Linked DNA regions of Homo sapiens: regions 1, 2, 3, 5 and 6 are each reported to be linked to region 4. Evidence: microRNA targets listed by miRTarBase, many of them from high-throughput screens and not tested one by one. Region 4 holds a microRNA gene; each other region holds the end of a gene's coding sequence.
The links. The annotated mature microRNA hsa-miR-4282 reads UAAAAUUUGCAUCCAGGA and lies in region 4 at 2,215-2,232, opposite strand. An mRNA with a match to its seed (bases 2 to 7 or 8) in the 3' UTR can be bound and repressed. Matches are read on the target gene's strand: a 7mer-m8 pairs with bases 2 to 8, a 7mer-A1 pairs with bases 2 to 7 and ends in A, and an 8mer does both.

Region 1: the mRNA of TPD52 is a reported target of hsa-miR-4282. Seed matches in the 3' UTR shown: 8mer at 2,887-2,894, 7mer-m8 at 2,658-2,664, 8mer at 2,247-2,254 and 7mer-m8 at 2,018-2,024.
Region 2: the mRNA of LEPROT is a reported target of hsa-miR-4282. Seed matches in the 3' UTR shown: 7mer-A1 at 1,601-1,607 and 7mer-m8 at 1,516-1,522.
Region 3: miRTarBase lists ZNF239 as a target of hsa-miR-4282. The part of its 3' UTR that is shown has no 7-base or 8-base seed match.
Region 5: miRTarBase lists ISLR2 as a target of hsa-miR-4282. Seed matches in the 3' UTR shown: 7mer-A1 at 755-761.
Region 6: miRTarBase lists HSPA4 as a target of hsa-miR-4282. Seed matches in the 3' UTR shown: 7mer-m8 at 1,782-1,788.

Annotation. Positions count from the first base shown.
Region 1 is chr8:80,034,479-80,038,586 of GRCh38, forward strand. TPD52 (tumor protein D52) reads right to left here. Exons shown (of 8, transcript NM_001025253.3): 8 at 267-3,757. The coding sequence ends at 3,638. The region is part of intron 5 of TPD52-MRPS28 (TPD52-MRPS28 readthrough); the gene reads right to left. Among named protein-coding and RNA genes, the nearest start is that of MRPS28, 6.3 kb to the left of the region's middle. RefSeq lists an enhancer at 2,519-2,568.
Region 2 is chr1:65,431,340-65,435,339 of GRCh38, reverse strand. It overlaps LEPROT (leptin receptor overlapping transcript), which reads right to left. Exons shown (of 4, transcript NM_017526.5): 4 at 1-3,537. The coding sequence ends at 3,421. The region is part of intron 2 of LEPR (leptin receptor); the gene reads right to left. Among named protein-coding and RNA genes, the nearest start is that of LEPROT, 13 kb to the right of the region's middle.
Region 3 is chr10:43,553,108-43,557,215 of GRCh38, forward strand. ZNF239 (zinc finger protein 239) reads right to left here. Exons shown (of 4, transcript NM_001099282.2): 4 at 3,237-4,108. The coding sequence ends at 3,596. Among named protein-coding and RNA genes, the nearest start is that of ZNF239, 19 kb to the right of the region's middle.
Region 4 is chr6:72,965,483-72,969,590 of GRCh38, forward strand. MIR4282 (microRNA 4282) reads right to left here and starts at 2,271; the gene lies at 2,205-2,271. The region is part of intron 1 of KCNQ5 (potassium voltage-gated channel subfamily Q member 5); the gene reads left to right. The region is part of intron 3 of LOC105377855 (a long non-coding RNA gene); the gene reads right to left.
Region 5 is chr15:74,134,740-74,138,847 of GRCh38, forward strand. ISLR2 (immunoglobulin superfamily containing leucine rich repeat 2) reads left to right here. Exons shown (of 3, transcript NM_020851.3): 3 at 1-2,063. The coding sequence ends at 253. Among named protein-coding and RNA genes, the nearest start is that of ISLR2, 6.2 kb to the left of the region's middle. RefSeq lists an enhancer at 1,091-1,782.
Region 6 is chr5:133,103,790-133,107,887 of GRCh38, reverse strand. It overlaps HSPA4 (heat shock protein family A (Hsp70) member 4), which reads right to left. Exons shown (of 19, transcript NM_002154.4): 18 at 3,862-4,023; 19 at 1,439-3,655. The coding sequence ends at 3,452. Among named protein-coding and RNA genes, the nearest start is that of HSPA4, 54 kb to the right of the region's middle.

The sequences.
Region 1 (4,108 bases), not on the chromosome of region 4:
CCACCACCATCAACAAGTCTGGAGATACCGGTTGGGAAGCTATTAGTATCACTCTAAAAATAGTCATTTCACCCATAGAAATGGATAAGATCATTAAGGGGATCATGTAGAAGATAACAACAGATAGACAATAGCATTTAGGAGCTGGAAGAATTCTAATACTAAAAAATAGTCAAAATGGAAAATAAGAACAGAGAATCAATTCTAGAAACCAAGGAGAAACTTTAAAGCATGCTGGAGAGTGGTAAAGTGAAAGATCACGTCCATTTACAAATATTCAAACAAAACTGTATTTGGCTTTTTCTATATGATAGAAGAACCACAAAATTAATAAAATAAACTACCAACCAACCTCAGTAACATCAAAATTACATGAGAGCTGGCAAGAATTTTAGTTGCCAAATAGCATTTATTTGAGTACAAAATCCTGGCAGGCAAAAGCACTTGCAGACCCGACTCTCTGAGAACTTACAAACAAAAAGTGAAAAGCTCTTAGTTCATTTTGAGTCAGAACAATAAGGAAATTATGAAATCTAAGATGTGCAGGTTTACTTAAAAGTGATAATGGTTTATATTAACTGTGGCCCACACAGGGTCTCTCTAATCTAATGAAAACAGGACAGTCACTGAAAATAAGGACTAATCAATGGCCAAATGTTTCTTCACTATGGGCAAAAATGTGATTTCTTCATCTGGGCTTTAAGAGCTATAAATAAAACACATGGCCGGGTGCATGCCTATAGTCCTAGCTATTTGGGAAGCTAAGGCAGTAGGATTCCTTGACCCCAGGAGTTGGAGGTCAGCCAACTCTAAACAAACACAAACATCATTCTGACAAATGACCTTAATGTAGGATCTCTTTGGACACATCTTCAGCAAGCAGTCATTTAATAAATGCCTTCTGATAGGCAGAATGTAGCTGCTCATGGCTCTTTAAGTATCATATCCAGAATATGAAGGGTTTGGAGAGAAGTTGCATAATGGACTTGCCCCTTTCCTCAATGGGCAGGTAATGTATACAAAAGAACCCATACCCAAATTATAGCATTTTTATTTTCCAATACTATACAAAAAATAGACTGTGCATATCTTAACAGATCCAGATCCAAATTAAATACTTTTTTTCTATTTCAAACTATTCTAAGTTGCTAAGGTGATAATCCAGTTTTGAGCTCTACTCTCTTCCACTGACTACTTGGCTCTCATAAGCATAAGAATTCTTGCCCTATTTCCCACAAACTCCATAAATTGACATTTCTTTTTGTAAGAAGGGGATATTTTCTTCTACACTTGAGTCCTTACATCTGTGAGATTTCATAAGTATCTGAGATTTCACACTCTTGCTATTTTCTTAGTGTCAAACACAAGAGGAACCAGGAACTGTTTCTGGCATTTCTACTAATTACTATGTTTCTCATTCTTTAAATATCTGTGAATTCATAATATTGAATCTGCCACAAAAACCATTTTGAATATTTCTAAATTCATGTTTTTTTCTAAATCCATCCTCACTCTTTTTAATACTTCTTTCAAGGGGCAGAGTACTTTACAGTAGATTACTTTGTTTCTTAGATTAAGTATAGGTAGATGTCTAGAAAAGTGATTCTCCATTATTTTCTTTCACAGCCACCCCCAATACCCACCTTCATCCACTCACCCCACTTGCCACCCCCATTTCTATCACTTTTCCCTTTTTGGGCAGAAAAGAGACTTGAGGGTATTTCACTCATCTAAAGAAATTGCCACTTTACTCCATTTTGCCTTGTTGAAAAGTTAGTAGCAGGGCAGGATGCTCAAGAAACAATGTGATCAAAAGAATATGTTTGAATTTTAAGAAGTAGACTAGTTCATAGAAAAAATAATTTAACACTTGAGTAAGCACAATATTTCTATAGAAAGACAGACTTCTACAGATCCACTCCTCTGAGAAAATGCTTCAACAGCCTGTGCCTTAAAGCCCTTATTTAGAATATGTTAATATGATACCATTAAGCAATAATTTAAGGATGGTTAAAAAAAAATTTTTTTTTTTTAAGCATAGACTCCAGTTGATTCGGTACAACAAGCTGTTTCCAGACCACTGGTCTCATAATAAATATTGAGACCTATACTACTGATAGATGGAATTTATTAAGCTTTTCACATGTGATAGCACATAGTTTTAATTGCATCCAAAGTACTAACAAAAACTCTAGCAATCAAGAATGGCAGCATGTTATTTTATAACAATCAACACCTGTGGCTTTTAAAATTTGGTTTTCATAAGATAATTTATACTGAAGTAAATCTAGCCATGCTTTTAAAAAATGCTTTAGGTCACTCCAAGCTTGGCAGTTAACATTTGGCATAAACAATAATAAAACAATCACAATTTAATAAATAACAAATACAACATTGTAGGCCATAATCATATACAGTATAAGGAAAAGGTGGTAGTGTTGAGTAAGCAGTTATTAGAATAGAATACCTTGGCCTCTATGCAAATATGTCTAGACACTTTGATTCACTCAGCCCTGACATTCAGTTTTCAAAGTAGGAGACAGGTTCTACAGTATCATTTTACAGTTTCCAACACATTGAAAACAAGTAGAAAATGATGAGTTGATTTTTATTAATGCATTACATCCTCAAGAGTTATCACCAACCCCTCAGTATAAAAAATTTTCAAGTTATATTAGTCATATAACTTGGTGTGCTTATTTTAAATAGTGCTAAATGGATTAAGTGAAGACAACAATGGTTCCCCTAATGTGATTGATATTGTCATTTTTACCAGCTTCTAGATCTAAACTTTCAGGCTTTTGAACTGAACATTGATGACAGTGTTCATAGTTCAACCTACTGAACATACAGTGTGCTTGATTCAGAATGTTATTTTGTAGAAATTAAAATTTTAACCTGGTGAAAAATAAGTTGATATAAGTGGTATAATAAACAATACACTGAAATGGTTACTGTCACAAACGGTGCTAAATAATGATATAGGAGGTTCCACTCTCAAGTCACCTAGAAGTTTGATTACATATTGTTACTTACAAAACTATAATAAATTGGATGCACAGCTGTTTACTTCAGTCTGGTGTCTTCAACCAAAATATGTACCTTATACCAAAACAATGCTTATTCCAAAATATTTTTTGTAGCTAGTAGTTCTTTCCTTGGAGGTAAAGAAAATACACCCAAACTTTTAATTACCAGGATTCAGAATATTTAAGAGAACAATTTTAGTTAAGAATCAAATATACAGAGATTCAAAGAGGGGAAAAAAAGGAAATATTATAGAAGACAAAGGTCAAACTGGCATTCCAGATCTGGAGCAATTTTGTAAAGCAGGAAAACAACTATGACAATCTGTAGCTTCTTAGATCATTATAGTGAATGTCCCCATTTACTATAAGTGTTTTTATAATGGTGTTTCCTAAATAAAGGAACATAAATGTACACTAAAGGGTGTTTCCCAAGAATAGAGGTGAAGATATTTTCATTTTGTTTAACCCACAAACTATTTGGTCAAAGGAATATGTAAAGCTAAATAAAAGCACATCTGGTAGAAATTCATGGCAATGCATGTTGACAAGATGTGCTTGGACCTCGCTTGCAGCATCTGGCAGTGGGTAGCAGAACAAAGGTAGGAATCTCACAGGCTCTCCTGTGTCTTTTCTGGAAGAGGCTCCGTGGTGGTGGCACTAGCATTTGCAGCCGAATTCAAGACTTCTCCAAAATCACCACCAGCAGGCTTGGTTCCCCCTACTTTAGACTTAAAAAAAAGTTCAAAAAAGGGAAAGACATTATGAAACATAAAACTAGCTGATTCTGCATAAAGTAACTCTAATTCACTTTCAAGAACAAATACATCAGCAACCTTATAGCTCAGTGATTATTATATATGTATGGAATTTAGTATTGTTGCAATGTTCAGTGTGGTTTTATAGTAAAACTCATGCATTCTCCCTTGCTGAAATATTCAGATTGGTAAATTCTACCCCTTCCCCTTTCCCCCTGCTCCTTGTTCTTCACAGGAAGTCTGTCTAGAAAACTTTGTAAGGTCTATTATTTTAAAGTACCTAGTGAACTGTCTGTCTCTACACTTGCATAACATTTTGTATTG
Region 2 (4,000 bases), not on the chromosome of region 4:
CACCTAAGCATTTCCCTGAGAACATAAAGAAGGTTATTAACATAATGAACTATTTCAGCCTTGAAAACAGTATTCATTGAGGAGATACCTCAGAGGTAAGGACTTCCTTAGGACAGTAAGAAAAATCTATGAGTTCTTAAGTGGAAGAAAAGAAACAACTATGAAAAGCAGGACCAGCTCAGAACTCCTCCTGAGGAAGAGATGAGGTATGACAGGATTTTCCCTGTCCCAAAATATTGCTATCCTTCTATAAGCTGCTGGAATCTTTCTTCATTCCGTTCTCCCATTCTCTGTGAATGAGAATCAGTGGGTTATGAGGCATTCTCTAAAAACGCAGGTGCAGCAGTCATGGGAATGGCAGTCGGCCCAATGCAGGTGTCAAAAGGAATTTCAGATGTGGAGAAGATAATCACAAGGCATTCTTTCTGTGATGAAGTGTGATCTGCTTTCTTCTCAGCACCACATGACATCAGCTGTACTTAGAGAACTGACTAATGGGAGGAGAAGGGTGGGTGACTCTGGAATATGAAGAACCTCAGGAGGGAGGATGGAGCCCAGTGGGAAGGTTCTCAGTTGGGAGAGGTGAACAAAACTCCCAGGAGTGTACCTGGATCTCAAGGGCATTAGGAGGTGAAAATGAGTGGAAAAATTAAAAGGAGAAAGACCTTGTTCTTAGGAAAAGGGGTGGAAAGTTGCACTGTCCTTCCTCCAAACTACTCACACTACCCTGTCTCAGAGACCCAAAACTCAGGCAGGCACCTTCAGTATCACAGGTTAGGTATATTAGAGTTGAACCTGTTGAGGGAGGCTTGGCCTGGGAACTCAATCACCAATTCATAGTATTGTTTCTGTGGAAAAGTGTCTCAAAGTCTGCTTGTAACCCACTTGTTTGAAACATGATAAAGAATCCCTTCATAAGATTATTTACTTGTGGCCAATTTTGGAAGTGCAATCTCAGTTTTCGACTATAGTCACTATGCTCTGAATCTCCAAATATATTGTACAATATATAAAAAAAGAGCCTTTTATAAGGAAAAAAATGTCCAACATTTGTGTCACCATGATCAAACTTTTGTATTATATATTCAGATATAGCAATATTTCCTATTAATATTTACTGTTTAAATGATATTTAGGCACTGCAGAATAGCTCTCTTTTCAGACATAGAGCAAATCTAATAATCTATCACTTCAAATACTCTATATGCAAGTACTTTATATCAATCTAAAGATACAATCAAGAGGTAATGCTTTAAGGCTACATATGAAGGCTACCTTGGTTATTGAAAATGTGTATAAGCAACAAAAACACTTTTGCAAAATGTAGTAGAAATGAATCATTATTGCCATCTTAGAAAGAAAAGCTATTGCACACCAACTAGACATTCAAGATGGTATCCTAAAACTTATTGCTACTGTTCTGTTAGGACAGATTATTGCTCAAAACTGCCCATTTTAAAACATCAAGAAATTCTCTCATTTTTGTTATCTTTTCAGGCAAGGCAACATCACAAAAAAATTTTAAAGTTAAACTTTTAAAGTTAAAAGTGAAATTTATTACAATACAATAAATGCAAGTGTCATTATTAAAAATGCCGGTTAAAATTATAAAGTATCTAAATAATTTTTCTAATATAAATATTGGAAATGACAACTTTAACAATTCTATATGTACACAGGACACTGAAAACATAAAATCATGAACAAGGCCAAAAAATAACGTTGCACATTAACCCTTTAGTTATTACTTTCTATTTTCCAGTCCCAGCATCATACCTGCTAATTACTCAGATCACAAGCCTCAAGGATTAAGTGTTTTGAATGTATTTCAGTTTCATACTTTAACAATGCTTAAAGACTATTGGTTGTATTCTGATCAAATGGTTCTCCTTCCCATATTTCCCTTTCTCAATAGATCTTAGACAAAAAGGTGAGCAGGGAAAACTGTGATTACAGGATCCAACATGACAGGTATACCCAATGATTCATTTAAGGGTGGCATAAAGTTATATAGAAAAGACCTACAGGACGGAAGACAAGTACATCAACACGTAGTGAAATTAAGCAGTTCACCCACTGCGTGCTTACATGGCTCCTATATCTCTTCGGGAAGAAGCCAGAGCCGTAGAGAAGTCAGGGCAAACCAGAACTGTTGAGGAGTAGGGGTGGGGGGCAGAGGGAAGGAGCTGGGGAGAAGTGCCAGATCATAAAGGAAATGTAAAAGAGTTACCTATCTGTTCTCCCCCTCCTGCTAACGCAGGGGCTGGCTCGAGCCCAGCCTCCCTGCCCGCATCTCAGTGGAGCTCTTCCCCCAGCATTGTCTTTCAGATGAAAAGATACATCTGTTCCCCACTGAGATGTTTTTTTGGGGGAGAGAGTATGTTTTGTTTTTTATTTTGATTATATATTGACAAATTATTGTATATTTTTATAGGGTACAATACGGTTTTATGATTTTTGAATATAAGGTGGAATGATTACACTAATTAACATATGATCTCAAATATTTAACTTTTTTATGAGAACATTAGAAATTTACTCTCTTAGCAATATTGAAATATACATTCAATTATTCCTATATTTAGCATGCTGTGCAAGTGATCTTTAAAAAAAAATCACACTTATTCCTCCTAACTGAGGCTTTGTACCCTTTGACTGTCTCCCAATTCTGAGAACACTTTTCATAAATTTGAGGAACTGCCTAAATATTATAGGCTTGAACATCTGAACTTGTCCTCAGCATGAAAGCAGGTGAGACTTTTTTTTTTTTTTTAAACAAATGAGCAGGTAACACCCAGAGAGGTTAAGTGGTTTAGCCACTGGAAAGATAAGGAAGTTGGGTGTGATGTTTACTTCTCTATGATGATGCTTCTCAAACTTTCATGTGCATACAACTCCTTTGGATCTCATCAAAATGTCCTGGGTCCAGAGTGGGGCTTCAGATTCTGCATTTCTAATAAGGCTCTAGGAAATGTTGAGGCTCTTGGTCTGTGGGCCACACTTTTAATAGCATGGACTACAACACAAAGAGGGATCCACCCCGGCCTTCCTGGGTCATGAGAGGCCTGCTTCAGCGTTATCTGCCTCTCCAAGCACATCCCCAAGCAAAAGGTTTCGATGCACTGCATAAGGTGGCAGCTGCCTACAAGACTGCGTTAATATATTTTCTGAGAGCACCGTGACTACATGAACAGCCAAACAAGTAACATAATTTGAGTAACATAATCTAAATTTGACAGGTCTATTTGCTGAGAATAAAACTCATCTCCTACTTATGAAGTCTTTCTTAAAGTGAACATGATATATAAAGGTATTAAAAAACCCAGCATATTAAATTTCATAGTAAAATGCCGCATGTGCACATGTATACAGATAGTATGAGTTCTAAGAAATTCAATGCACTGTAATCAGAATAAAGTGCTACCACTGCTCCCAGCTAAAATCATCTCCTCTTCCAAATATAAGGAAAAACCCTTGAATTGTAAGGAAAATGACTGCATTGCCTGCCAACACAAGGCCGCAGGCTCCCCATTTGATCTGAAAGACAAGAAAAGAAGGATTAAATCCTTACTTCCTTCATATTGTACTCTTTGCAATCCCTATTATTTTCTGCATTAGAAACATCCAATGAAATGTTACACAAAGCTGCTAAAAGGCTTAATAATGTAACAGGAGACAATGAACTGTTCAGTAATGAGTCTAATTACTTCTGTGATGCTTGTTAATTAAGTCTGGTATCATCCTTAACATGTTCCCAATTAGACATATTTCTCTACTTGTTTTTAATTGACAATGATTGCCTTAAGTAAAACTCAAGTGGTAAGATTATAAATAGTGCAATTACAATATTGGGTACTGAAAGTTCTGCACACATCAACTTCTTTCATGGAAAATAAAAATTGTAGAGTTATAAATTTGTGTGTTTCTTTTCTAGGCAAGAAAAGACTTTAAATAATAGTCTTCATACAACTGAAAACTGCTTTCCAGCTTAGTAGATGGT
Region 3 (4,108 bases), not on the chromosome of region 4:
ACTTTCAACTTTTTAAAAATATTGAGCTTGTATCCTGTGACCTTGCTAAACATACTTACTAGTTTTAAAAACATTTTCAGACACTTTATGCTTTTCCATATAGACAATCATGTCACAGCAGTCTCATGCCTTCTTTCACATTCTGTATCCCTTTTCTTTGAGACAGGGTCTCACTCTGTCGCCCAGGCTGGAGTGCAGTGGTGCGATCACAGCTCCCTGCAGCCTTGATCTCCTGGGCCTCCAGTGATCCTCCTGTTCAGCCTCCTGAGTAGGTGGCACTACAGGCACATGCCACTATGCCTGGCTAATTTTTATTTAAGTTTTGGTAGAAATGAGGTCTCACTATATTGTCCAGGTTAGTCTTGAACTCCTAAGCTCAAGCAATCTTCCCACCTTGGCCTCCCAAAAATGCCAGGATTTTAGGCATGAGCTACCACACCCAGCCTCTTTTTTATTGGCTTATTGTACTGGCTAGGACATCCACTACAAGGTTGACTGGAAGTGGTGACTAGACATCTTTCTCTTGTTTCCAATCTTAGGAGAAAAGTGCTTTTTACTTCACCAGTAAGTACGATGTCAGATGTAGGTTCTCCCATAGATGCTCTTTCTTAGATTCTTGAAACTCAATTTAATTCCTAATCAACTGAGCGGTTTTATCATGAATGGGTGTTAAATTTTTTCAAATGTTTTCCTACATTAAAAAAATTGTGGTTTTTCTTTTTAATATTAATATGAAACATTGCTTTTTGAATGTTAAAGCTTGCATTTCTAGGATAAACCCTACTTGGCCATATGTGTTTCCTTTTATAGATTGCTGTGTTCAACTTGGTATTTTAAAAAGGATTTTTACATCTATATTAAGAGATATTGATCTATGAGTTTTTCCTATGATGTCCTTTTTGGCTTTGGTATCTGGGCAATGTTGGTCTCATGACTTTTCTTTGGGGGAAGGTTATCAGCTAAAAATTCAATTTAATAGGACTATTCAAGTTCTCTCAAGTGGGCTTTGGTTCTATAGTCCTTAGGATAAAATTTTCCAATTCATTTAAGTTGCTGAATTTATTGGAATTAAGTTACTAATAAAATTCCTGTATTACCTTCTTGGTGTATAGGACCTATAGTGATATTTACTCTTTCATTCCTGATACAGGAATCCTTTCAACCCTTTCAAAGAGTTAGGTTTTGGTTCCATTAAATTTTCTCTATTGTTTGTCCACTTGTGATTTTTGTGACTTTTAGCTCTGTATCATCTCCTGTTCTACTTGCTTTGGATGATTTCTGTTCTTTTTCTCATTTCGTAAGGTGGAAGTTTAGACTATCGAATTGAAATCTTTATCTCTGATTTCACCTCTAAGCACTGCTTTAGCTACATTTCACAAATTCTGACATATTCATTCAGTTCAAAATATTTTCAAATTTTTCTTACTTTCTCTTTATTGCTCATTTAGGAGTATGTTGTTTAATTTCCAAATACTAAGAGATTGTTCAGACATCTTTGTTATTGGTCTCTTACTTAATTCTGTCCTGGTGAGAGAATATACCTTGTATGGTTTTCATTCTTTAAAAAATTTTAAGACTGTTTTATTACAGTCCATAGTAGGCACACTTGAAAAGAATGTATACAGGTTGGGCACAGTGGCTCACATATGTAATCCCAGTGCTTTGGGAGGTCCTGGAGGGAGGATTGCTTGAGCCTGTGAGTTCGAGACCAGCCTAGGCAACAGAGCTAGACTCCATCCCTACAAAAATAAAAAATAGCTGGGTGTGGTGGCACATGCCTATAGTCCTAGCTACTCTGGAGGCTGAGACAGGAGGATTGATTGAACCCAGGAATTCAAGGTTGCAATTAACTCATTGCACCACTGCACTTCAGCCTGGGTGAAAGAGTGACACACTGTCCCTAAAAAATAAAAATATATTAATATATCATGCTAATGAGTGTTCTACAAATGCCAATTAGTCAAGTTAGTTGATAGTGCTGTTCAAGGCTTATACCTCCTAAGTGACTTGTGCTATCAATTACTTATTTAACTATCTAATTATAATTGAAATTGTGCCTCTTTCAATTTTGCCAGTTTTTATTTCATGAATTTTGAAGCTCTGTTTATGTGTACTTAAGCTAGAAAGTAGCTTTGCTGTAGGATTCCCGAATTCCCATAATACAGAGGTCTTTCCCTTGGGGCCATTCAACTTCTGCAGAGAAGAAACTTCCCATTTCTTGCTGGACGTTAAACCTCTGGTCAGCCACGTACAGGAGTTGGGGAGCAGTGTGTGTTTATGTAATGAGGAGGTATGTTCCATATACAAATGGCCATTAGTTTCATTGCTTTCTCTTCACATCTCACTCCCATCTTCCAAGGTACTAAGCATTTCTGAGCCTGGTGCCAAATTGGTTCCTTCTTTTCCTTATCCCCATATGCAAGCAGCATAACTGTGCCTGCTTCTGCTCTACTGGCTATCTTTCCATCTTTCAAATTTTCATTTGCTGATAGTCTTTCTCCTATTCTCCTTATTGCTGTAGTTTGATAAATTAAATTTTCCTCGCATCTTAATGTTGTCCAATGTGATGAGACATGTTTAACAAAAGTGCATTCTCGAATACTTTCTGTGCTAGCCATTTTTAGCTTATCAAGCCCCAACATGATTTCTGCAGCCTCTAAGCTGCCCCCTGCTCCTTATGTATTCATTTTTCCAGCTCTGCCTCTGGAACCTATTTGTTATTATCACCTGCTCTCAGGTACCCCTCCTGAGTAGCTGGGTCTGCAGGTCTGTGCCAGCACACCAGCTAATTTTTGCACTTTTTTATAGAGACAAGATTTTGCCATGTTGCCCAGGCTGGTCACGAACTCCTAGGCTCAAGTGATGCACCCTCTTCAGCCTCCCAAAGTGCCAGGCATGTTACTTTGGACCCTTCCTCACATTCACTCTGGAAGTATCCCAATAAACTAGCTGTACTCACCAAAAAGGACTACTTATGTTCCTGAATAGTTGCCTGGGAGGGGCTGTTCAACTTCCTATCAAAATGGTATATGGGAATGTACTACATGAGTAACTCTCTTCCAGCTTTTTGTTGTGTGGCTACAAACTATTATATCTTTTTGCAATAAACACAATAATTTCCATGTCCATTGTATTTCCAACTGCCCTCTTGGCCTAAAATGGACGCAGTGTACAATCATAGTTTAGAGGGGGCTAATCAGGACTGGAAAGAAGTATGAAAAACACAAGGCACAAAATTTGAAGAGAAACCAGAGTTTCAATTTCTCAGAGAATGTGAACAAAGGGAAACATGCCCTGCTTGAGAATAAATATAAAGTTCTTGCCGTTAAAATGCTGGGTAGAACATGTAGTTGAATTGTAAAGTACAGACACTTTTACTCTACCCATCTGAGAAACAAGAACAATCCATTCATTGTACAGCATAACAAAGTGCTTGATACTTAAATATTTTGAATGAGTGATTTTTCAGTGAGGGAACATATCTAAATAACCCTTACATCTCTCTCCTTTGTAGAATATAAAGTAAGAGTGATACTAAATATTTAACAGTTTTTACAGTATGAGCGCTGTGAAGACCTGAATGGGCTAATGTCAGTTAGCGAGGATCTTTCTTGTGAACCCGCTGGTGGATGTGAAGGTTGGAGCTCTGGCTGAAGCCCTTCCCACACTTGCTGCACTCATAGGGCTTCTCTCCAGTATGTACTCTCTGGTGGATGAGGAGTTTGGAACTCTGGCTAAATCCCTTCCCACACTTGCCACAGTGATAGGGCTTCTCTCCAGTGTGGACTCTGAGATGGATGCGAAGATCCGAGCTCTGGCTGAAACCCTTCCCACACTCATAGCATTGGTAAGGCTTCTCTCCTGTGTGGATGCACCGGTGAATGTGAAGGTTCGAGCTCTGACTGAAGCCCTTCCCACACTCACCACACTTGTAGGGCCTCTCTCCTGTGTGTACTCGCTGGTGGATGTGCAGGTTTGAGCGCTGACTGAAGCTCATACCACACTCCTCACACTCATAGGGCTTCTCTCCAGTGTGGACTCGCTGGTGGATGTGCAGTTTGGAGCTCTGACTAAAGCCCTTCCCACACTTGTCACATTTATAAGGTTT
Region 4 (4,108 bases):
GAAATGGCTGTATCTCCTTCTGTTTTTTTCTTTCCTAGAAGCCATTTTCTCAACATTTCATCGTGAACTATTATGGCCTCATCGGGAATGTGAAGTGTGTCATCTGAGCAGATGTTCTTATTGTTTTCCTATCCACTGACCCACAGCATCAAACAATTTAGAGGAGAAAAGTGGTCCTGTCATCTCCAGAGTTATTATCTATTTTATTTTTAAATCCAAACTTCCACAATCAAGTTGCTATTAAGGTTTATCTTATTAGCATTTAAATTTTTAGGAAATGCTCATTACTGGGTTAAGCACAAAAAAGTCACATTGCTTGAAAAGTGCTATTTGTAAAACAGAATGGCCCACTTTGTCTATGTGTAAGAGGATCTGCTGCACATTTTTACCTGGAATAATATTGTCATGGATTTGGACATATGTGGAAGTGCTATTTGTGTTTATGCAGATCAACCTCTTGGTTTTACAGAAGAGAGATGCCAGTCCCAGGGAGGTTAAAGTGCCTGCCCAAGGCCGTGTGCTGGAGCAGAAGGGGAGGTGCTGCCTCCAGTCGAGTTAGAGCACTTCCCACCATCCACCACCATCAGGTCCTGAAGCCAAATACAGAAGATAGCATATATTTTTATTACTTTGAGATATCATCCTGAGCCCAAGAAGAATTTCTTGTTGCTGTCTCATAAATATATTACTTTGTTATTTATTAGTTTAGGCAGTTTATGACTAGCAGTCAAATATTCCCAATAAGGTTCGAATCAAAAATGTTATTTTGTTTTTGTATTATAAAAAGAAAAGCAGGCTAGGTGTGGTGGCTCATGCCTGTAATCCCAGAACTTTGGGAGGCCAAGGCGGGCGGATCACCTGAAGTTAGGAGTTCGAAACTAGCCTGGCCAACATGGTGAAACCCTGTCTCTATTAAAAATAACAAAAAAAAAAAAAATAGTTGGGCATGGTGGCAGGCGCCTGTAATCCCAGCTACTCAGGAGGCTGAGGAAGGAGAATCTCTTGAACCCGGGAGGCAGAGGTTGCAGTGAGGCAAGATCACCACACTGCACTTCAGCCTCGGTGACAAGAGTGAAACTCCATCAAAGAAAGAAAGAAAGAAAAAGAGAGAGAGAAAAAAAAGAAAAGCATATTTTGAAAGGTATCCTCTTAAATTTGTGGTGACCCTCAAATATTTATGCTAAAACTTAACTTTCAGTATGGAAACAGAAACATGGGTTCAATTTAAAATCCATGACTGGATCATGAGCAGGGCAAAGTGAGAGGCATTGTGAGATAGGGCCAAATGCTTCGAGAATTTACTCCATACAGACTGTGTTCAGGAACCCAGCACTTCCTCTGTGACTCAATAACTGGCACATATGGTTGCCAGGGACTACCAACAGCTGATTTCAATAAAAGTTACCCAATTACACCTTGAAGACCTGTTGTTTCTGGAGGGAGTTGGAGGAATTAAGGAATGTGGACTGAGTTTTTAAAATATATCTTACAGAAGTCAGAGGAAGATATAGAAGGACAGGAATATACTCAAGATACAATATTTTCTTCTACTGTACTTTTTGTTACATGGAACAGAATTTTAGCATTGGATCCCTTCAGCTGTGACAAAGGAGAAGGTCCATGGTTATAAAGTTTTCCATTAGACTCTCCTCACACACAGGAAATGAACTTCCATAAATTTAATGATATGACTCTTAGGGTTTTATTTCTCCCATTTTATAACCCTCTTTAGGATAGAAACACATTTCTTGCACTATAAAAATTTTAGTCAGCAAATTTTTCATATTCTCACTGGGATTTCATAATCAGTCTGTACACCCTTCCTATGCAATAACTTTTGATCAGTATAGTGAAATATAATGGTATTATGTAATTTTAAGATGTACATCTTAAAGACAAAAAAATATCCCTTTATTTAATTCAAGATAAATAAATCAGTGAGGAAAATGTATGGTGAAAAGTTTGGGCATATATTAGTTATCTTTCAATATATTTTTCATTTTTTTCTTTTTATTTCCTTCAACCATATGATGCAATCAACGGATATTTGTTGGGTGCTTTGATGTTTTCAGATCTATGCTATGCACTACAAGGGTCTCAAAAAGGAATGAAGAACAAAGTCCCTGCTCTCAAGAATGTAGAGTTTTCCATACAAGGTTCTAAAAACCATTAAGGTCACTTAAGATATCAGTCAGAAGGTGAATAGGATGATGTTCCTGGATGCAAATTTTAGAAATGTGGCATACTAAAATCTTCCCCTGGAACTTCACCATTCACACCTAAGAAGTTAAAGATGTCTCAGTAGGTTCTCACTATGTTGTCTAGGCAGGTCTCAAACTTCTGGCCTCAAGAGATCCCTATACCTTGGCCTCCCAACGTGTGGAGGTTACAGGCATAAGCCACTGCACCTGACCCATTTTCTCCTTCTGAAAACTCTTTTGGATTTTAGGATACCATGTTCTTTGGATTCTTCCCTGCTTACTCTGACCTTCCTTCTTGACCCTCACTGTCTCTTCCTCATTCGCAGGGCCACTTCTCCTTAGCGACCCCAACACAACCAAGTCTCAAAATTGGACATCTGATATATGTGACAAAGATATGTTTTCATTTATATAAAATGTGAATAGAAACTTACATACACACACACAAACATACAAACACACACACACTCACAGTGTCTCAGAAGTTCTGCAACAAAGAAATACAGTTATTGTCATTGAACCCAGAACTCCCTAAGTGTTTTTGACAGAGCAACTTTTTCTTGAGACAGATCTATAAAAATCTCTTGGGATAGTGGTGTTCTATGGAAAACAGTCTGGGGAATACTGAATTAGAGAACCGTGTGAGACATTTTATTATTAACATGCAAACTCAAAGTACTGAAAGTGTAGAGAAGAGAAATATCATTATGATCTAGACGGGTGAAGAAAAGAATCTCAAAGGAGGATAGACTTTTAAAGAAATAAGTGAAAAAAAAAACAGAACATGTGATGAGGAGGGGGAAATTCAGATTATATCTCCCAAATTGATGATATTGATTATTTGAAAGAGGAAGGCAAAGGTGTAGACAATGATTATTAGGGACTTTGACTTTCTAAGTTATACATTTCTATATTGTTTATGTACTTGTTTTTACAAAGTTTTACAAATGTTTTATGAAGTGGCTTATTCTTATAATCCAGAGATATTCTCCTAAAACTAACTAAAGTTTATTTATCAGATTAACTAATGATGTGTATAGCTCTTACTTCCACAATTATCCATATATACATATATGCAATATTTACAAACATAGAGATGTACAAATATAATATCTCGGCCAAAAATAATTGAAGCATCAAAGTCAACCTACATTGTAATCTTGGGCAGCACCTGTTGTTTATTCATCTCTCAAGTGTGGCTGACTTCAGGGATGAGAATAAACAATGTGATCTCTTACTAAGCTTCCCTTTGGACTAGTCATCCAATTGGTATGTGATGACTTTATACCTGAAACTAAGGAGTTGAGGAATAAGCTGAAAATAGCCAACTTGGGTTTCCTAAGTACAGTTTGGCTTCTGTAAGAACTGTTTGGTTGCTCCTCAATTTCAGTGTATTCATTTTTTAAAGTATATTTATTTTAAAAGTGGCAAATTCAGGTATTACTTAATAATTAAGAAGCATTTATGCCCAAACACAATATATGTTTACAACCAAATTTGAAAGTAATTGAACTGATAACCCTTTAGACAAAGGAGATGTGTTATAATAAATATTATTGTCAGCTTTCCTTCATCTTAAGATTTTTTGAATCTTGGAAGAAGATATGCATGAACTTTGTGTTGGGTATTTATAAATGTATACACATATATACATAGCAAAATGTAAGCACAATACAGGTATAACATGTAAGGTTAGACCATGTAAACTTGCTGAAATTCAGTTGTTTCTGACCTACAATAATGGCAATTTCATATGGTTGAACCTAATGGTTTGTCTCAGTCATTAGTTAGTGGTGCCTCCTCCCCTAGGTAGAGTTTTCCAATTGTGTTGGGATGGTATTTTCACTCTTGTAACATTCCCAACTTGTATCAGAATTCCCTTCATCTTCCCTCCTCTACTTTTATAT
Region 5 (4,108 bases), not on the chromosome of region 4:
CGAGGCGGGCGGCGAGGAGCCAGAGGACGTGCAGGGGGAGGGCCTTGATGAAGACGCGGAGCAGGGAGACCCAAGTGGGGACCTGCAGAGAGAGGAGAGCCTGGCGGCCTGCTCACTGGTGGAGTCCCAGTCCAAGGCCAACCAAGAGGAGTTCGAGGCGGGCTCTGAGTACAGCGATCGGCTGCCCCTGGGCGCCGAGGCGGTCAACATCGCCCAGGAGATTAATGGCAACTACAGGCAGACGGCAGGCTGAACCTCCGCCCGTCCGGCCCGCCCATTCCCGACCTCCACCTAGGGTGCCTGGGAGCAGCAGTCTAGGGCTGGCAGGACTTATGTCCCCCGTCCCCAACCTTCACCTACTCCTCCCCCTTACTACTCCCCAACCTTGACTACCAGGGACTTCTATTAGGGAGTGGGCCGATTTCACCAGTCCCTGCTACCCACGGCTGCCATTCTCCCTGCGGGCTGAATCCCCTTCCCCGCCAAGCACAGTGTTTATCTTACCCCATGCAAGACTCCACCCGCAGACGGTGGGCGATATCTATGTCCCTCCATTCCCGTCGCGATTATCTGCGAAATCCACCCCGCAGCCCGCCCCACCGTGGGCTCTGGAGCCAGAGGAAACGAGCGAAGACTTTGGAAACCTCGCGGTAACGCGGTGGTTTCGGGGGCCAGCCAAGGCCAGTGGAGTGCTGTGGGGTCCCACCTCGACCCCTCCTCCTCCCTTTCTTTCTTTCCTTTTTTTTTATTTTTTAATTTTATTTATTTATTTATTTATTTTTTGACGGAGTCTTGGTCTGTCGCCAGGCTGGAGTGCAGTGGCGCGATCTCGGCTCACTGCATCTTCCGCCTCCCGGGTTCAAGCGATTCTCCTGCCTCAGCCTGCCTAGTAGCTGGGACTACAGGCGCGCGCCACCACGACCAGCTAATTTCTTCTATTTTTAGTAGAGACGGGGTTTCACCATGTTGGCCAGGATGGTCTGGATCTCTTGACCTCAGGTGATCCATCTGCCTCGGCCTCTCAAAGTGCTGGGATTACAGGCGTGAGGCACCGCGCCCGGCCCCTCCTCCCTTTCAATCCCTACTCCCAGAAGCCGGGATTCGTGGCAACCCCTAGTTTTTAGTTCCAAAGCCTCCTGCCGGCAGGGAACCAAATCCTTCTGTCCTCCCACCCCCACCCCACTTCTGGCCAGTTGGAGTCCAGCCCGGTGCCTGGGGCGCCTTTCAGCTCCGCGCTCAGATTTTCCTGTTTTCGTTGTTTTCAAAGACAGCGACATTTCGGGTCTGGTGCTAACACCCCCTTCCCAGCCTCTGGGAAAATCGAGTGTGTGTGTCGGGGGGTAGGGAGGGAATGCGTTTTCTGTCGTCTCTCTCCTAACTTAAAGCGCCGCAGGACCGCGCGCCCCTTGGCGGCTGAGCCTGTGGACTTGGTCGCGGGCCAATTTCGTTGTCCGTGTGTTGGGCTTTCCGGAGGTCTGTGCGCCCAACAGCGCCGCTCCCGCGGCTCCACCCGACCCAGACCCTAGCTGGAAAGCGCCGGAGGCGGAGGAAGCTGACTGTGGCCTCCCGGGCCGCGGCTCTCTGGAGGGCTCGCGCCCTAGTTCGCACAAAGCCTGCTCGTGACTGTGCGACTGTGCGACGGGATCCGGATGGAGCCGAGCCCCTCCGTCCTCGCGTCTCGGTCCTCGCGTCGCCCCGCCCCACCCGCCCCTGCTTCGGCGGGAATCGTGTTTGCCCGGCGTGTAGTCCCTGACAAGCGTGCCCTGTAGGAGAAAAGTCTGTGTCCTGTGAAGTGTGACCGTGTAGTGTAGGGGGGCGGGCGGGGGGGCGGATGGGCGGGGAGGGAGGGAAGGGGAGGGGCGCGGCGCGGCGACTCGGGGCGGGGTTCTTTTTTCCATTTTGAAAGAAAGCGTCGGGGTTGGGGTGGGGGGAGTTTCAGTCCTCGGGATCAGCCCTCTCCGCGAAGCGCAGCACAAGCGCGGGCCTGGGACGGAGTAGCCCCCCGGAGCCCGTGCCCTTTTCTAAACGCGTCTGTATGCAGTCAATAAAACAATCGATTTGAACTGGGCTCGGTGACTTTTTGTCAGGGGACAGAGGGAGGAGGCCTGGGCGATGAAGGAGGAAACCGCGGAAGGAAGGAGCCCCCCCAGAGCCTCCCGTTGGAATCTTTTGAGTGATTTCCTGTTTGCGTGACCATCCTGTGATTTTTTTGCCAGGTGTTTGCACCCAGCCCTGCTCTTAGTGTCTCCAACTCCAGGGTGGGGTGACAAAAAACGAGGGCAGGCTGCAAGTGAGTAGGGGGAGGTTGCAGGAAAGGAAGGCGGGTGTCTGCAGACCCTGAACACAGGGAGTCTGAGTGTGCGTGCAAGTATATTTGCACTCAAGGGTGTGCGGCACCCTCTTTCACTTGAGACTGTCTGTGTAGTGGGGTGTGGCTGTATATGGTGTCACACTGCCCAGTTTCTGTGTCTCCACATCAGCCTTTGAGTTCCCTGAGAAGCCGGTGGGAAGAGGATGGGATTCATAGGGACAAGACCGCTGTGGCTTGCACAAGAGAAGTCACAAATAACACAAAGTACAGAGCGGGCAAATGATGTAAAGCAGGAAAGGGGGAGAACCTGGCCAGGCCGATTGCCCAGAGCGAGCCGGCACGTTTGGCCTGGGAGCCAAGTGTGTGCGTTGTGTGGGTGGGTGGGGAGCACTCAGTGAATGATGCATGCACAACCGTCAGGGTGTGCCAAGGGGGTGCACCTGGGGAATCAGGGTTGAAAACACACTGATTTCATAGTCCTAGAAAGGGGCTTTCTTGGGTGAGGAACAGGAGAGACAGGGGGATCAAGAAAGGAGACTGTGCTCCTGGCCAGCCTAAAACACACGGGTTGGGCTGCTGTGTGTCTCAGCTGAATCCCCCTAAGATGGGAAGAGGCGGGGAAGAGAGATGGAAGAGGAAAGCAACAGAAATGGGAAGCAGATAAAGATTCTCTCTCTCCCCTCCCTTCTTCCTGCTTCCAATTTCTTGTCCTCTTTTGCTGTCTCTGTGGGTCTTCCTAATTGGACCAGTCCAGGCTGGCAACAGGCCCAAGTTCCAATGCTCAGGGTCCTACCCCAGCCTCAGGTCTGTCCTCTGGCATAGGTGGTGGCTGTGACACTTCTTGGGGCCTGAGCCCAGATTCCCTTCCCAGACCAGCAAAGCTGTTTTCTTTCTTTTTTTTTTATTTTTTTATTTTTAAAATAGATCAGTTTTATTCTGCTAGTTCCATAAAAACAATGTAAACACAAGCGTTCTGTACATCTTCTTGGTGAATTCACATAATGCTTTGTTCCCTGATCCTTTAACCTCCTCGTCTTCTTCCAGTCATTTTCTGTTTGGACCACTGGCCACAGGAGTGGAGTGGGGTTGGGGCTTAGGAGAGAGCAATGTGGCTTTTTCGTATGACTTGTTTTATTGCTTGCCCTCTCAGCACACTCCTGTTACTCCTAACACAAAGTCTGAGATTTAAGCCCTTAAACCTGTAGGTTTCACCATCAGCTTTTTCTTTTTCTTTTCTCTTTTTTTTTTTTTTTTTTTTTGCATAGGCATTACTAGGGATGTGAATGGGAGACTGGTATAGAAAGTGGTGAGGAGCCGAAGCCAAGAAATTGCTTTAAACACAAGATGAAAACGCTCTGTTCTGTACACAAAGAATCACCTAATACTGGTGTGAGGCATCTCACTTAGCTGTGGAGAAGTCCTTGGAATTAGATCTCAGAAAGACAGTTCCAGCTTTAAGACAGTAAAACCTTTAGGCAATGGGCTAATTGCCTTAAAGGAAAGAAGAGTTCTACTTGAAAGAGCTTGCAGGTGAGAAATTGTCCTACAAAGATTCTTAGAAATGTTAGCGGAGATAACTGACATGGGTAGCTGTGGGCCAACCAAGAACTGTCAACAGCCCGATCTCATAGCAAAGCTGTTTTCAAGAAAAATTCCCTTCTGAGGGCCACAGCCTGAGCCCTGCTCCTGGTCACAGCCCAACACTGCAGTCCACCCCACTGCCTGGGACACAACTCAAGAATATTATCTCTTAGGAAGACACCTGTTTTGTTCTACCTGCAAATCCTACCGCTGAGC
Region 6 (4,098 bases), not on the chromosome of region 4:
CAGTGCGTGGTGGCGCACGCCTCCAGTCCGTTACTCGGGAGGCTGAGGCAGAAGAATCACTTGAACCCGGGAGGCAGAGGTTGCAGTAAACCAAGATCCCGCCACTGCACTGCAGCCTGGGTGACAAAGCGAGACTCCATCTCAAAAAAAAAAAAAAAAAATACACACCTTTCTGTTAAAGCCACTTAAAATTATTGAAATAGATCAAGTGTACATGAGTACACTATCAAGTCAGATCAAAAAACAAGCATCACCAAGCCTCACATCATGTTGTCACTACTCCACAAAGAGTAACTACTATCCCAACTTCTAAAGCATGGTTTTCAGCTGGAACCATGCTTACATCTTCCCTCTTCCTGCAGGTACCAAAACCAGCAATTTTCCCCTTCATTTGGCTGTCCCCTCAAAGGTGGACTAAGTCCCACTACCTCCAACAACCCCCAGGCCCCCTGTGCCCCTGCAAAGCAGCTCCCACTGCCCCACAACAGAACCCTGATCTCTCAGGCCCCCACCTTTTAAGGAGACAGGGTATCACTTTATCACCCAGGCTGGAGTTGCAATAGCACAATCTCAGTTCACTGCAGCTTTGACCACCTGGGCTCAAGTGATCCTCCTGCCTCAGCCCCCCAAGTATCTGGAATCACAGGTGCACACCACCACACCCAGCTATCTCAGCTCTTTCTACCACATCTAACAATTCCCCTACAGAAACCACTTACATGCTCAGGAGGAAACCAAACCTACTAGACACACGTTTCTCAGACACGTGGCTACAATAGGCCCTGGGTAGGCCCTGGCAGGTAAGCTGCTCCTACAGCCAGAGGACTAGGACTGTGCAAGGGGCATGACCCAGGGAACAAGACCCCTGACCCCTCCTCGTCTAGACCCATGCCTTATCCAGTTAAGGTCTTTTTCACTGGCTTAGTGCCCTTTAAACACCCATCACCACCACATACATACACCAACACACATTCCACGCAGCCACACCACACATCCAGTGGCGCCAACTATTCTAGCACACTCTGGACCGCGCTGTTCTTTGGCCAGGTGTAAGTCCTAGCACTTACCTTTATGCCATAACCCCCGCCTTCTGCTAACAAAACCCTCAAAGTAAGGCCCAGTCACAGGAGCAAGACAAGGATTCCTAACACCAAAGGAACTGGGCCAAGACTCAACTGGAGAGTTTGAGTACAGAAAAATTAGGCAACATTTTCTCACAAAGTAGGCAGTGTGCTTCAGCTGTCACTCTTCAGACTGGAAGTCTTCAACGGATGTTAAGTGAAATTTAGCTCAGAGGGTTCCTACTCCTAGAGAACATTTTTATTGAAAACACACCCCCCGCCCCCACCCCACACACACATACACACAGACACACACACATACACACACACCCCCACACACACACCCAGCAGCCTTCATTATGGAATTAAGGAAACCATTCAAGTTTAAGACAGGTTTATTTTATTAGTTTTTCCTAAACTTGTCTCATGTTTACTGAATGATTTTCTTAGTGTAAGAACGTGACCTGGAGCTTTAACAAATCAGTTTGGATAACGCAACCTGGATAAATGCTTGTCTGTACACAAGCCATCAATTACCACTCTCTGTCCTGGCCTCCATGAAAATCCAATTGGTCTTAAAGCCTGTCTAAGCAGAGAGCAAGCAGACCACATCATCGTGTTTCAACTTGAAATTCACCCCCATCCCAGCACCCACACCCTTCCCCACACACACACACACACACACCAAAAAAAAAAAAAAAAAAAAAAAAAAAAAAAAAAAAAATTTTTTTTTTTTTAAGAAGAAATGGCCATTACGGTCTGGGCCAGTTGTAAAGGGTTGGCTTAATCCTGCAGCCAGCACTTTTAAAATAGCTACTGGCTTCACAGCAGGCCAGCTGGAACTCTTGAAGCATGACAGGTAGAGAACAGAGGATGTGCTAAGAACCTGGCCTTGTTGTGGTGCCTCGAGGCCTCCATGCATGCTTACACACCAACATAAGTATACTTTCCCCTTCCTCCTCCTAAGCAATTGTTCTCCATTGCACTTTAGAGCCTGTAACACTCAAACTTTTCAATGTTATCTAGAGATGGACAAACGCTTAATTCTAACTATGCAAGATAGCATCTTATTTCTAACAACATAGGCCAAAAGTAACAGAGAGGCACTCTGTTATACAGAATATCAATTTTTACAAAGATTCAAAACATTACCAACAAGCCCTGTAACAGTTTCTTAAAGCAGGTACCAACTCTGGCCTCAAACACAGGCTTCCCTTGGAGTTTCCAAAATGCCTCACTCCTGTCAACACTGCCCCAAAAAGCAGTCAGAGGAATGCTTTGGTATACCTGACATTGGCCACACAGTTAAGAATGAGGTGTTGTTATAACATCAGGCACCACACTTCTTTAACACTAATTTCAGACTCATCCAGTACAATCCAGTGTATCTTAGTTTTTTTTGCATCATCTGTCAGCTGCTTAACACGTACAAATTGGCAGGTTCATGACAGATATTAACACTTAACACACAAGTGATTGTGAATGAGCTAAAAAGAACTTTTAACTCTTGTTCTAGGAGTTCAAGCTATACCTCAAAATTATACAGAACATCTCCCACCTGAATAAACAGGCCAGGATACAAATCTTTACACCAAAATTAACAAGGATTTAATTCCTCAGTTAAATTTACCATGGCTATATCCAACAGTATATCTACCCAATTCTAATCTTCTGAAAATTATTTAGACCTTGATGCTTGGGGTATTCATGAACATACTTTCAGGAAGAGCCTCCAGGTTTAAAGCCCTCAGTTAACAACTTACTCTAGGCAAGGGGGTCTATTTTCCCAAGAGAAGTACATGGCATTTATAATGGGAGCCCTTTTATTGGGAGAGAGGGAAGAGAACACAGGTGAGGGTGAAGGTGAAATATGAAGAAGCTCAGAGCACACCTTTGTTCCTCTGCCGTGTTAATCCATGCCGTGCCATGCTCCAGCCCTCACAAAGAGGGGGACCCCATCCCCACACCAGGCAGGGAGCATTTAAAGCAATCTCCACAACAGATTTTTAAAGCATAATTAGAGCTCCTGCCATGTAAGTCATAATGAAAAGTCTGCTGGATAGCTAGAGCTGTAGCTATAGCTCAACTTTCCAAAACAAACTTATTCTTGTAGACACATGGTTAAACATAAAGGAGTGAAGCATAAGCTCAGTAAGACTAACTGGGCTTCTAAATAGTACCATTATGAAAAAGATACAATGCACTTAATTTCTGTATCTAACTATTTAGAAGTGAAAATGCTCCATACATTACCTATTTCCCCTCCCCGAAAATCCCCTAAAAACTGACTAAGAAATCTTCAGTATTCACTTGCGCTAGTTGATATTTAGAACAAAGTTGACAACTTAAAGCTTTATAATAGTCTGTTTTAATAGAAACAAGTGTTGGAATCAATCAATGTCCATTTCAGGAAGCTTCTTGTCTGAATCCGAAGGCACAGCTGTGTCTGTACCCTGCTCAGCAGCCTGGGGGCCTGGGTTGTCTCCTTGTCCATCCACTGGTCCATTCTGCTCTGCATTTTTTTGTTCCTCTTTTGGAGGTTCCACTTTGGGTTTGGGCTTTGAAATTATAGGGCTACAAGTACTTGTCAGCTCCTGGAATGGGTAAGACAGAAAACTGGTTTCTTATAAAATTAACAAATTTTACAAGCCATGCTAAACCCAAATCCGCCCTCTCCCACCACCCAATCCTCAACCTAGAAGCTAAAACACTATAATAAAGTTCCCTCCTAAGTGTCACTTGAGGACTATTAATAATAAGGCTGTCAAGAAAAGACTATTAAAAAAAAGTCTTAAATTACCTTAATTTTAGCTTCAATCTCTTTTGACTTGACAACTGGATCCATGGTCAAACTCTGCTTGTTCTGCAGATTTAGCTTGTTATTCATCCACTCCATTGCTTCATTTGTGCTTTTTTCTACCTTTGTCATGTCAGCAGCATCCAAATGATCATACTGGTCCTCCTGCAACCAGGAGACAGTCAAACAAGTGCTAAAAGTGTGATACCCTCCCTCCCCGCAACTACTGTCTAGTTTCTG